Homo sapiens: one gene and its partners. The protein of the gene in region 1 interacts with the protein of each later gene in a pairwise test. Each region holds a gene or a part of one and is shown in the gene's direction. Other genes may lie near its edges.

The links.
Region 2: the proteins of HID1 (region 1) and BEGAIN interact in a two-hybrid assay, tested with the Homo sapiens proteins (one large-scale study listed by BioGRID and IntAct).
Region 3: the proteins of HID1 (region 1) and RBBP8 interact in a two-hybrid assay, tested with the Homo sapiens proteins (one large-scale study listed by BioGRID and IntAct).

The regions. Positions count from the first base shown.
Region 1 is NC_000017.11:74,952,930-74,955,840, reverse strand, and holds part of HID1 (protein HID1), read left to right. Parts: coding exon 1-49; intron 50-508; coding exon of another isoform or gene 509-588; exon of another isoform or gene 589-1,399; intron 1,400-1,403; coding exon of another isoform or gene 1,404-1,450; exon of another isoform or gene 1,451-1,475; coding exon 1,476-1,703; intron 1,704-2,189; coding exon 2,190-2,296; intron 2,297-2,754; coding exon 2,755-2,835; intron 2,836-2,911. UniProt on the Homo sapiens protein: May play an important role in the development of cancers in a broad range of tissues.
Region 2 is NC_000014.9:100,563,406-100,567,057, reverse strand, and holds part of BEGAIN (brain-enriched guanylate kinase-associated protein), read left to right. Parts: exon of another isoform or gene 1-133; intron 134-3,652. UniProt on the Homo sapiens protein: May sustain the structure of the postsynaptic density (PSD).
Region 3 is NC_000018.10:22,939,741-22,943,392, forward strand, and holds part of RBBP8 (DNA endonuclease RBBP8), read left to right. Parts: intron 1-3,652. UniProt on the Homo sapiens protein: Endonuclease that cooperates with the MRE11-RAD50-NBN (MRN) complex in DNA-end resection, the first step of double-strand break (DSB) repair through the homologous recombination (HR) pathway.

The DNA.
Region 1 (2,911 bases):
TTCTTCCTCCTGGAGGTCTTCAACAACATCATCCAGTACCAGTTTGATGGTGAGGCACCAGCCTGAGGCCCTGGTGGTCAGGGTGGCCAGCGGGCCTACTTCCTACATAAGGGGGGCACAGCCCAGGAGGTGGCCTCTGGGAGGTGCTGGCCTGCTTGCCTTCTGCCCCCAGTTCATTCATTCAGTGTACATTTATTGAGCATCTACAGTGTACCTGGGTGCAGGGGATGCAGTGGGGAACAAAGCTTTGCTTCTTGCCCTGTGGAGCTCATAGCTGGGGATGGAGGCAGGGAAGGAGGCTTCAAACAGATGATGGACATCTGAAATTTTTTTTTTTTTCCCGACGGCGTCTCACTCTGTCGCCCAGGCTGGAGTGCAGTGGCGCGATCTTGGCTCGCTGCAACCTCCGTCTCCCAGGTTCATGCAATTCTACTGCCTCGGCCTCCCAAGTAGCTGGGATTACAGGCGCCCCCCACCATACCTAGCTAATTTTTTGTATTTTTAATAGAGACAAGCAATCTGCCTGCCTCGGCCTCCCAAACTGCTGGGATAACAGGCATGAGCCGCCACATCTGGCCTGAAATGTGATAAAAGGGAAGTACAGAGTAGTAAGTCCCTGATGGGTATCTTAGCAGCCCGTCTGCCCAGTGTCACAGACATCCGGCTGCCTGCTGTCACTTCAAGCCTTGCCACTCGTTAGCCCTGTGACCAGGGCACGTCACTTGACCTCTCTGATCCTCAGTTCCCTCATCTGTAAGGTGCTCATAACAATGGTTCTAAGGGTCCTGGTCTCAGAAGGTGTTGGGAAGATGGGGCAAAATAACCCCCAGAAGGCACTTAGCACAGTGCCTGGCAACTTAAAAATGATCAGTTTCTATTATTGCTATTTCCAAAGTCGGGCAAATTTGCAGTGATCTCTGAGGGAGAAATAGGGGTAAGGTGGGGCAAGAGACAGCACATGCAAAGGCCCTGGGGTGGGATGTTGGAACTGAAAGTGAAGAGTATGGCATAAGGCAGGACCAGAGATGGGGACTGGGGCCTGAGAGCCAGGAGAAGTCAGCGTTGGGGGATGGACGGATCCTCTGTGACTTCTCCTGGCCACCTTGCTCGAGGGGAGGTGGGAAGAGAGTCAGAATATTTAACAGCTGGCCTGACGTGGATGCTGCCATGCTGGGGCCTGTACTTTTTGCCAGGTGTTAGCTGTTTAGTGCTGGGTTGTGGCGGGAACTCAAAGGCACTGGGGCGGGGGTGTTGTGAGGTGCTCAGGCCTGACATTCTGGGATAGCCATAGTGGGCACACACAGCCAGTGCCAGCCCTGCCCCAGCACCCTCTCTTGGGCTCCCTGTACCATCTCCAACCCCTTGGGCAGACACCCTCCTGTCCTCCAAACTCCCCCTTCCAGGAAGCCCACCCAGATTGGACGGGGGGAGCTGGAGGGGGCCTCCCTGAGGCGAGGCATGCTCCCTGCCCACAGGCAACTCCAACCTGGTCTACGCCATCATCCGCAAGCGCAGCATCTTCCACCAGCTGGCCAACCTGCCCACGGACCCGCCCACCATTCACAAGGCCCTGCAGCGGCGCCGGCGGACACCTGAGCCCTTGTCTCGCACCGGCTCCCAGGAGGGCACCTCCATGGAGGGCTCCCGCCCCGCTGCCCCTGCAGAGCCAGGCACCCTCAAGACCAGTCTGGTGGCTACTCCAGGTCTGGTGCTAGTGGATGGGACAGGAGTGTGGATACTGGTGTGGCTGGGGGAGGGACATGGTCTCGGGGTGTCACCCCCATCTCTGGCAAAGAGCATGGCTTATGTATGGAAGCCGAGGGGATGGGGCTGGGCAACAGGGATGGGGGGAGGGTACTGGATGGGCTTAGCATATGTAGCTTGGTGTTGGGGGCAAAGCCTCAGGGCGAGTGTAGACTCTGGAGGGATGGGCACAGGGATGGGGGAGGGTACTGGATGGGCTTAGCATGTGTAGCTTGGTGTTGGGGGCAGAGCCTCAGGGCGAGTGTAGACTCTGGAGGGATGGGCGCAGGAGAGGGCGTTACAGTGATCAGACACTGCCTCTAGAGCCGGTGGAGGTTCCAGAGGGAAGCAGGAGTAAAACAAATAAAAATAAAAAAGTGGGTGGAGGAAGGGCTAGAAGGGTCACTGTGGCAGGGAGTCCTCACTCCCACCTGTGCCCTGCCCAGGCATTGACAAGCTGACCGAGAAGTCCCAGGTGTCAGAGGATGGCACCTTGCGGTCCCTGGAACCTGAGCCCCAGCAGAGCTTGGAGGATGGCAGCCCGGCTAAGGGGGTGGGTGACGGGGACTCCTGGAGCCGGGCGTGGCTGGCCCTTCCCTTCCTCCCTGGTCTCTGCAGTAGGGGCTGGGCCGGGGCACTCTGGGGTCACCTGCAGCAGAGGGGCAGTTACCCAGTGCCCAGGGCATTAGGGTCAGCGCTGCTGACTCCCTTGGGGGTGGGGGCCTTTCACAGACCCCTCCCTTGTTTACTGGTTCCGGTGAAGCCCTTGGCCTTCAGACTTCTCATCCCTCCGCCTTATCTGAGCTGGCCTTTACCCGGCCTGCCCTGTCAGCTGCTGGCCTTAAACCTGTCACTAGGTTGGGCTGGGCCTAGGGCCTGGGGCAAAGGCTGCTGGGCTGGGCCTTCCCCTTTGTGGGATTTCCAGCTGCCAGTGGAGAGGGCTCATTGCCCCCCACTCCACCCCTCACCCACCGCCACCATCCCTCACCCCTGTTCCTTTCTGGGGGCCAGGAGCCCAGCCAGGCATGGAGGGAGCAGCGGCGACCGTCCACCTCATCAGCCAGTGGGCAGTGGAGCCCAACGCCAGAGTGGGTGAGGAGGGACCCTGTGCCAGGCGAGCGGGGGCTGGGGTTTGGGCAGATGGTACTGAGGCGGGAGCTGGGTTGGG
Region 2 (3,652 bases), on another chromosome or scaffold:
GAGGCCAGAATTGGCATCCTGGGGAGGAGGCCGGGTAGAGGAGCATCCCTCCCCCAAGGAGCAGAGCCCAGCCTGGGCCCAGGTCTAGGGCAGAGGGGCCCTGGGCTCTGCCAGCTGACCCTTAGTGCCGTGGGTGAGTGGCTTGGAAACACCCAGGTGGGAGCCTGGGGGCAGGTGGGCTCACACAGAGACCCAGGGTGGACTCTCAGAGCAGGGCCATCTCCTGGGCCATGGAGCTGATGTGCAGCCCCCACTGTGGGTCCCACAGGGACAGGACCAACATGTCTTGTGCTGGGAGGAGGGGTCCAGTCTCTGAGGTGGTTCAATCTCAGACCCCAAATACCTGATACCCATCAGCCAGGCCCACCTTGTCGTGGCCAAGGTCCAGGTGGGGGCGGTGAGGCCCAAAGAGCGACAGCCCTGGCTGTGGTCACACAGATGACCTCAGGCCCAAACTCAGGCTCTGGCCCAGGCCAGGGCCCTTCCCTGGTGCCCCACATTGGCTGTCATTTCACCACCTGGGTTGTACCGCCTGTGGGGGGGAGGAAACACTGCTTAACTCAGCTGAGACTTGAGGAAAAACTTAGCATTCATGGGGTGCCCTGAGGCCAGCCTGGGGGTTCCCTGCGGTGGTTCTCTTTCTCTTTCCCTCCTTCCCTGTGCCCGGCCAAGGCTCTCCGGCACCTATTCCTGTGTGCCAGGCACTGAGGACAGAGGCATGACCCCGCCCGGCTGGGTGCACAGGTAGGCAGGTGTGCCAGGTGGGCGGATCTGCTGCCTGAGCTGCTGATGGCGTCAGCGTTGCTGTCCCAGGCGGGCTGAGGCTTCCCTGGGCTAAGCCATAAAGGCTGGAGGCAGTGGCCAGGGCCTGGGCTCCTGGGCTGCATCGGGCCATGTGGCCTTTCTGGAGTTGCCAGGGGTGGCGTGGGGCAAGGACTCCTAGAACTGGGGAGGGGTCCTGCCCTCCTCTCCCTCTCACCCAATTAGTGTTCTCAGAGTTGCCTGAAGGGCTTTTCCAGAATCTTCCCTTCTGGCCAGTGTCGGGGCTGCCCCAGTGGGTTTCTGTCCTGCATTTGGTGCCTGGGATTCAGAACCAAAAGCCCAGGGGAGTGGAAGGGAAGTTGGTCAGCATGGCTTCCTGCACAGAAGGGCACAGGGTTTGGGGTCCCACAGACCCAGTCACTGACAAAGTCCTGGCCCTGGTTGGGCCTCAGTTTTCTCATCTGTAAAGTGGGTGTCCTAACCACAACCAGGTTGCAGGGATGTTGGGTGCCGTGAGCCCCTGTGGTGGAAGCATCTCTCCTGGGACCTGGCCCAGAGCAGGCCCAGGTAGAGGGTCTCTGGGGAACCTCAGACCACACGGTGGTCACAGTGAAGGGGTCCTGAAGTGTCCACAGGGATGACCCTATGGTCGGTCCTGCCTCCTGGCCCCTGGACTGTGGAGTCTGCACATCACAGGCTGGGTCTGTGGGTCTGGATTGAGCTCTGAGAGTGCTGGTCCTGGCCCCCTCCTCTCCCACACCCCCCAGGGCCTGGAGCCAGGACTGACTTATGGGACAGTCCTGTAAATATTTGCTGAAGAGCAAAAGGACCATGTCACCTGGTGGCACTGTGGCCCTCAATGGCTCCCTTTGGTGGGCAGGTGTACATTGAGGGGTCTCTCTTCCCTGGTCCCTCCCACTGGCTGCCCCCCCATGCTGTCGCCCTGCTTCCGAGTTCCCCACAAGCTGCCACCTTCATGCCCCTGCCTTTGCCCACGCAGTCCCTGCTGTAGAGAATGCCCTTCCCTGCCTTCTTGTCCACATGACAAACTCTGTGTCTTCCCTGTCGCCTTTTCCCTGGGGTTTTCATGACGCTCTTGCCCCTCCCTCCCAAGTGGACTCCAGCCCCCTCTGGGTACCAGCTCTGTGAAAAGACCCGGTTGGCCCTCCAGTGCCGGGGACAGAGGCCCACAACAGATCCTCCTAGGCCAGCGGACAGAATACAGAAGGGGTTTGCCCACAATGCTCTGGGGTCCCAGGTTGTGAACCCTGGCCTGGGGTATTGGGAAGAGCTTCCGGGAAGCAGGGACACTTGAGCCAAGGCATGAAGAATGGGTAGGAGTTTCCAAGGACAGACAGGCCACCCTCCAAGAGGTGCAAAGGCCTGGGGGCTGCCCAGAGCAGATGTGTTTAGGGAAGACAGGTAAGGGGTGGGGAGTGGAGGTCAGTGGGGCTCCCACTGACATCTGGGGTGTCTTCTGTCTTCCCCAGGGCCCCAGATGGGCACCCCAGAGAACAGAGCCGGGGTCTGGCCCCTGGTGTTCTGACAGCCACAGTGCCTGGCAGAGGCTGGCGCACAGTAGGGCTCCCACAGGCCGGGGGGCCACATGGTAGATATGCAGCCACACCATTTGATGGCCTGGCCACCTTGGCTCTTGTCCTTTGACCCTTGCTCAGCCACACTCAGCTATCTTGTCTTCGACTGCTTGGAAAAACTATTCTTGTGACTCTCAAATATTTATAGATATTACCAAGTCCCGGCTGGCTCTCCGTGTGCTCAGAGCCTCTGTGCCTCTAATCCCTCAAATTAATCCCCTCCTCTCCCTCCAAACAGGGTCCCTCCTGCCTGCCTCCTGCAGCGTGCTGCTGGGCAGCCCCTTTTTCTATTTGAGCTTCGGTTCCCTCCTCTGTCAAACAGAGAAGTGGGTCAGTCGCCTCTCATGGCTCCTGGGGTGCCCAGAGCTACTCCTGTTTGGTGTCCACGTTTTCCCCCCAAAATAGAATTTTTCAAAGTCGTGAACTGTGATAGGCCTGCAGAGACATTAATAAATATCCGCACAGTTCAGTGGTTAAGTTTAGAACGACCACCTGGCGACCACCACCTGTGTCAAGGAGTTCAACATGGCCAACCCCCGAGATCCCCCGAGACCCTTCCCCACAGACAGCCCCATCCTGCTCCCGGCCAGCCCCTAAGATCCCCCGAGACCCTTCCCCACAGACAGCCCCATCCTACTCCAAGCAGTCACCGGGACACCGACCTTGTGCTCAGTGGTTCCTTGCTGTCCTCGTGGTTCTGCCACCTGAGAGGGCATCCCCAGCAGAGATGGTTGTATGTTGCCTGCTTTGGGACCTCATACCTGGATTCCTTCAGCCTGTGTTTTGGGGGTGGCTTTTTTTCACCAAAACTATTCTGTTTGTGAGGGTCCCTTGTGGTGGTAGGTGGAGCTACCAGTTGCTGTTGTCATGGTGGCTTCCCTGAAATCCGTTTGTTCCCTGGCAGACTGCCGGGCACTGTGCAGCCTGGGCCACCTTAGGAAACTCCTGTGCGGGTGTCTGGGGATGTGGGCTGCGATTCTGGGTGTGCACCCTCAGTGGAACCTCCGGGGCACAGGGTGCGCATAGGGTCAGCTCTGGAAGATCGGAACAGACTCTTGAAACCGCTTCTCCCCATCACTGTCCCTCCAGCGTTGTTGGGGTGGGCTGCCCTGGTTTGCTGCCCGCTGGGTTTCCTCACCGGCGAAGGCCGTGCGCATTTTCTACCAAGGTGTTTTTCCCATTGATTTGTGGGAGCTCTTCACACTGTCAGTTACACATGCAGCAGCCACACCTCCTGGGGGACGCCGCGTCTCGCTGTTCACACGGTCCTTCTATGAACAAAAGTTCTTAATTTT
Region 3 (3,652 bases), on another chromosome or scaffold:
TAGCTTTAAGGGAATTTCTAGTCTAGAATTTTAATGCAGTATACTATGTTATTATCTGAAAACATGAAGGAAGAACTGAGGGTGTGTGTGGTTGCATGGGGAAGTGGGTTTGTGCATGGTTTATGTCAGACCAGGCTTGATAATTAAGTCTAATTAGCCAGGCAAGGAAGATGGTGGAAGGGGAGGGAATTTTCTGAGTAGAGAGAATAGCACATGCAAAAGTTTGCAGATAAGAGCTTGATTTTATTCAAGGAACTCTGGATAGTTAGGTTTAGTTCTAAGAGGAAATGGAATGGGAGATTGGAGTTTTGGGGGAGGTGGATAGGATATGATGCTAGAAATGTACATAGATCCAAATTATGTAAAATGGTATGTGCTATGCTGAAGAGATTGTCATCTTGCCTTGACTTTAGGACAGATTTCTCTATTTCTGCAAAAAATGTTGGGATTTTGGGATTTGGGATTTTGATAGGTAATGCATTGAATCTGTAGATTGCTTTATATAGTATTGACATCTTAACAATATTGTTTTGTAGTCCATGAACACGGGATACCTTTCTATTAGTGTCTTCTATATTTCTTTTTTTTTTTTTTTTTTGAGACAGAGTCTTGCTCTGTAGCCCAGGCTGGAGTGCAGTGGCGCGATCTCGGCTCACTGCAAGCTCCACCTCCTGGATTCATGCCATTCTCCTGCCTCAGCCTCCTGACTAGCTGGGACTACAAGCACCCGCCACCACGCCCGGCTAATTTTTTGTATTTTTAGTAGAGACGGGGTTTCACTGTGTTAGCCAGGATGGTGTCGATCTCCCGACCTCGTGATCCGCCCGCCTCAGCCTCCCAAAGTGCTGGGATTACAGGCGTGAGCCACTGCGCCCGGTCTATATTTCTTTTTAAGATTTTTTAATTTTTAATTACTAATTTTTAGAGATGAGGTCTTGCCTCATTGCCCAGGCTTGAGTGCAGTGGCACAATCATGGTTCGCCGTAGCCTCAAATTCCAGGGTGCAGGCAATCCTTCCGCTTCCACCTTCAGAGTAGCTAGGACTACAGGCATGCACCACCGAACCTGGCTAATTTATTTTTTTATAGAGACAGGGATCTCATTTTGTTGCCCAGGCTAGTCTCAACTCCTGGGCTCAAGCAGTCCTCTGACCTCATTGGCCTCCAAAAGTGCTAGGATTACAGGTGTGAGCCACCACACCTGGTCATTCTATAATTTCTTTCAGCAACATTTTCTGATTGTCATTGTACAAGTTTTTTGTCTCCTTGGTGAAATGTATTCTTAAGTATTTTATTCTTTTGATGCTACTGTAAATAGAATTGTTTTTTTAATTTGCTTTTCAGATTGTTCATTGTTAGTGTATAGAAATACAACTGGTTTTAGTGAGTTGATTTTATATTCTGCAACTTTCTTGAAACTCTTGATTTCTATTTTTGTTTTTTATGTTTTGAAACAGAGTCTCACTCTGTCACCCAGGCTGGAGTGCAGTGGCATGATCGCAGCTCACTGCAACCTCTGCCTCCCAGGTTGAAGCAGTTCTCCTGGCTCAGCCCCGCAAGTAGCTGGGACTACAGGCACGCACCACCACTCCTGGCTAATTTTTGTATTTTTAGTAGAGATGAGGTTTCACCATGTTGGCCAGGCTGGTCTTGAATTGCTGACCTCAAGCAAGCCGCCCATCTCGGCCTCCCAAAGTGCTAGGATTACAGGCAGGAGCCACTGTGCCTGGCTATTTATAAGCTATTAATTTAATAGAAATAAAATATTTGACAGATTTCTTCTTCCTATTCTTTGGTGTTACAGGATCTTCATGAAATCCCTATTTTACAGTGAGGAAGCATCAAGAAACAAATGGTATACTCTTTAATAGGAACAATATGCCATATTTATCAAATTATAGAATATATAAAGCTTGCAAATATTATGTAGTAGATAATTCCTTTAAAGTGTACTCCTCATGGTTATGTTCTAATCACATTCCCACAAAAGTTTCTATACTCTGAATAACTTTAAGGGAGGAATACAGTAATTGTTGGTGTATATGATAAGGTCCATGTGTTTTATGAATATTAGGTATTGGATATATGAGCTCATAAGAGAAGATAATCTTTGGTACGTTATATTGATCATGCCACTTTCCCAATTTCAAATAACTTATGGATTCTTAAAGGTATTAAATGAATAAGTACTATTTTTTAAGTAGATATGTCATTTTAAAACATTTTGGTTTGGGCCATGCCTTCGTCAATATGTTCCACATAGTTCCATATAAAATTAGAGTCTCTATATGATAACATCAAAGACATGCCTGAAGGGAACTTAATTTTTTTAAGGAGGTGGGGAATCCATTTGTAGAAACCAGTGTAAGAAGCTGTTTGAAAGACATCAAACATGGACTTGTCTGGACTTTGCAGGTTTTAAGGTATATATAGGAATCAAAATTGACTCATGACTTTTAAAGCTTCATGTCAGTAAAAAATAAAAGAGAAATGTTGGGAATGGTAATATTTGAGATATATAGTTTTTACTTAGCTACAGAAATGTACCCATAGGAACTTGCTTGAATCTGAATGCTCTGCTACACGTGTTTAGAATTATTTTTGCCTCTTTTGCCAAAACATAATAAAATGATAGCAAAATATGACAGTATGTGCACTGATCACAACAATATAATAAACTGCATCCATGTCTTTTAAAACTAGGCAAGAATAGACAAAATGCTCTAATTTCTGTTGGAGACTAGCAATATGCAAACCAGACCATTTTTGTTGAAAAATTCTGGAGACATTTATGACCGAGTTTTTATATCCTTTAAGATAATTTTATCCTTTCATGATTGTATCATTTCATGATATGTTCCTTTTGTGACAAATGCTGCTAGTATCAGTGTCACAGATTGTTACTGATGATATACAGTGTTTATGCTTTAAATTCCGAACTCACAGAATTTAATGGAAACTTCAGAATTCTTTAAATTTCAAAAGTTTTAAAGCATATTTATTTGGGTACAAAATTTTATTGCCTTTAAAAATCTTTTTCAGTATCAAGTTTATTATCAAAAGCACAAATAATAAAATAGAATTTAAAATATTTATTTTCAGAATACCACTATTTTAATAAATGATCTTTTGCCTATGCCAGCGTCTGCTATTAACATCTAGCTAATATATTTTCTGTGTCTAGTAAATATGGTAATCAGTTTCAAAGAAAACTAGGTAGGTTTTGTGAGGCAAAGTTGAAACACCTTGAAGAAATGGGAAAGTTTGGGGGCTCTAATAGGACAGGATAAATATTTCTTGATTCATTTTTTAATTGCTCCATTTATTTTCTATACATAGAATCAAAAATTCTAAAAAGAGAACATTATCTTAAGACTGCACAAATTAACAGTGAAAGGAATTGTCCCACTCATTATTAAGAATGCTGTCAGGCTGGGCACAGTGGCACACACTTGGGAGGCCAAGGCAGGAGGATTACTTGAGTCCGGGAGTCTGAGACCAGCCTGGACAACAAAGCGAGACCCTGTCTCTACAAAAAACATTTTTTTAATTAGCTAGGCATGGTGGTGTGTGCCTGTGGTCCCAGCTACTTGAGAGGTTGAGGCAGGAGGATCGCTTGGGCCTGGTAAGTCAAGGCTACAGTGAGCCGTGAT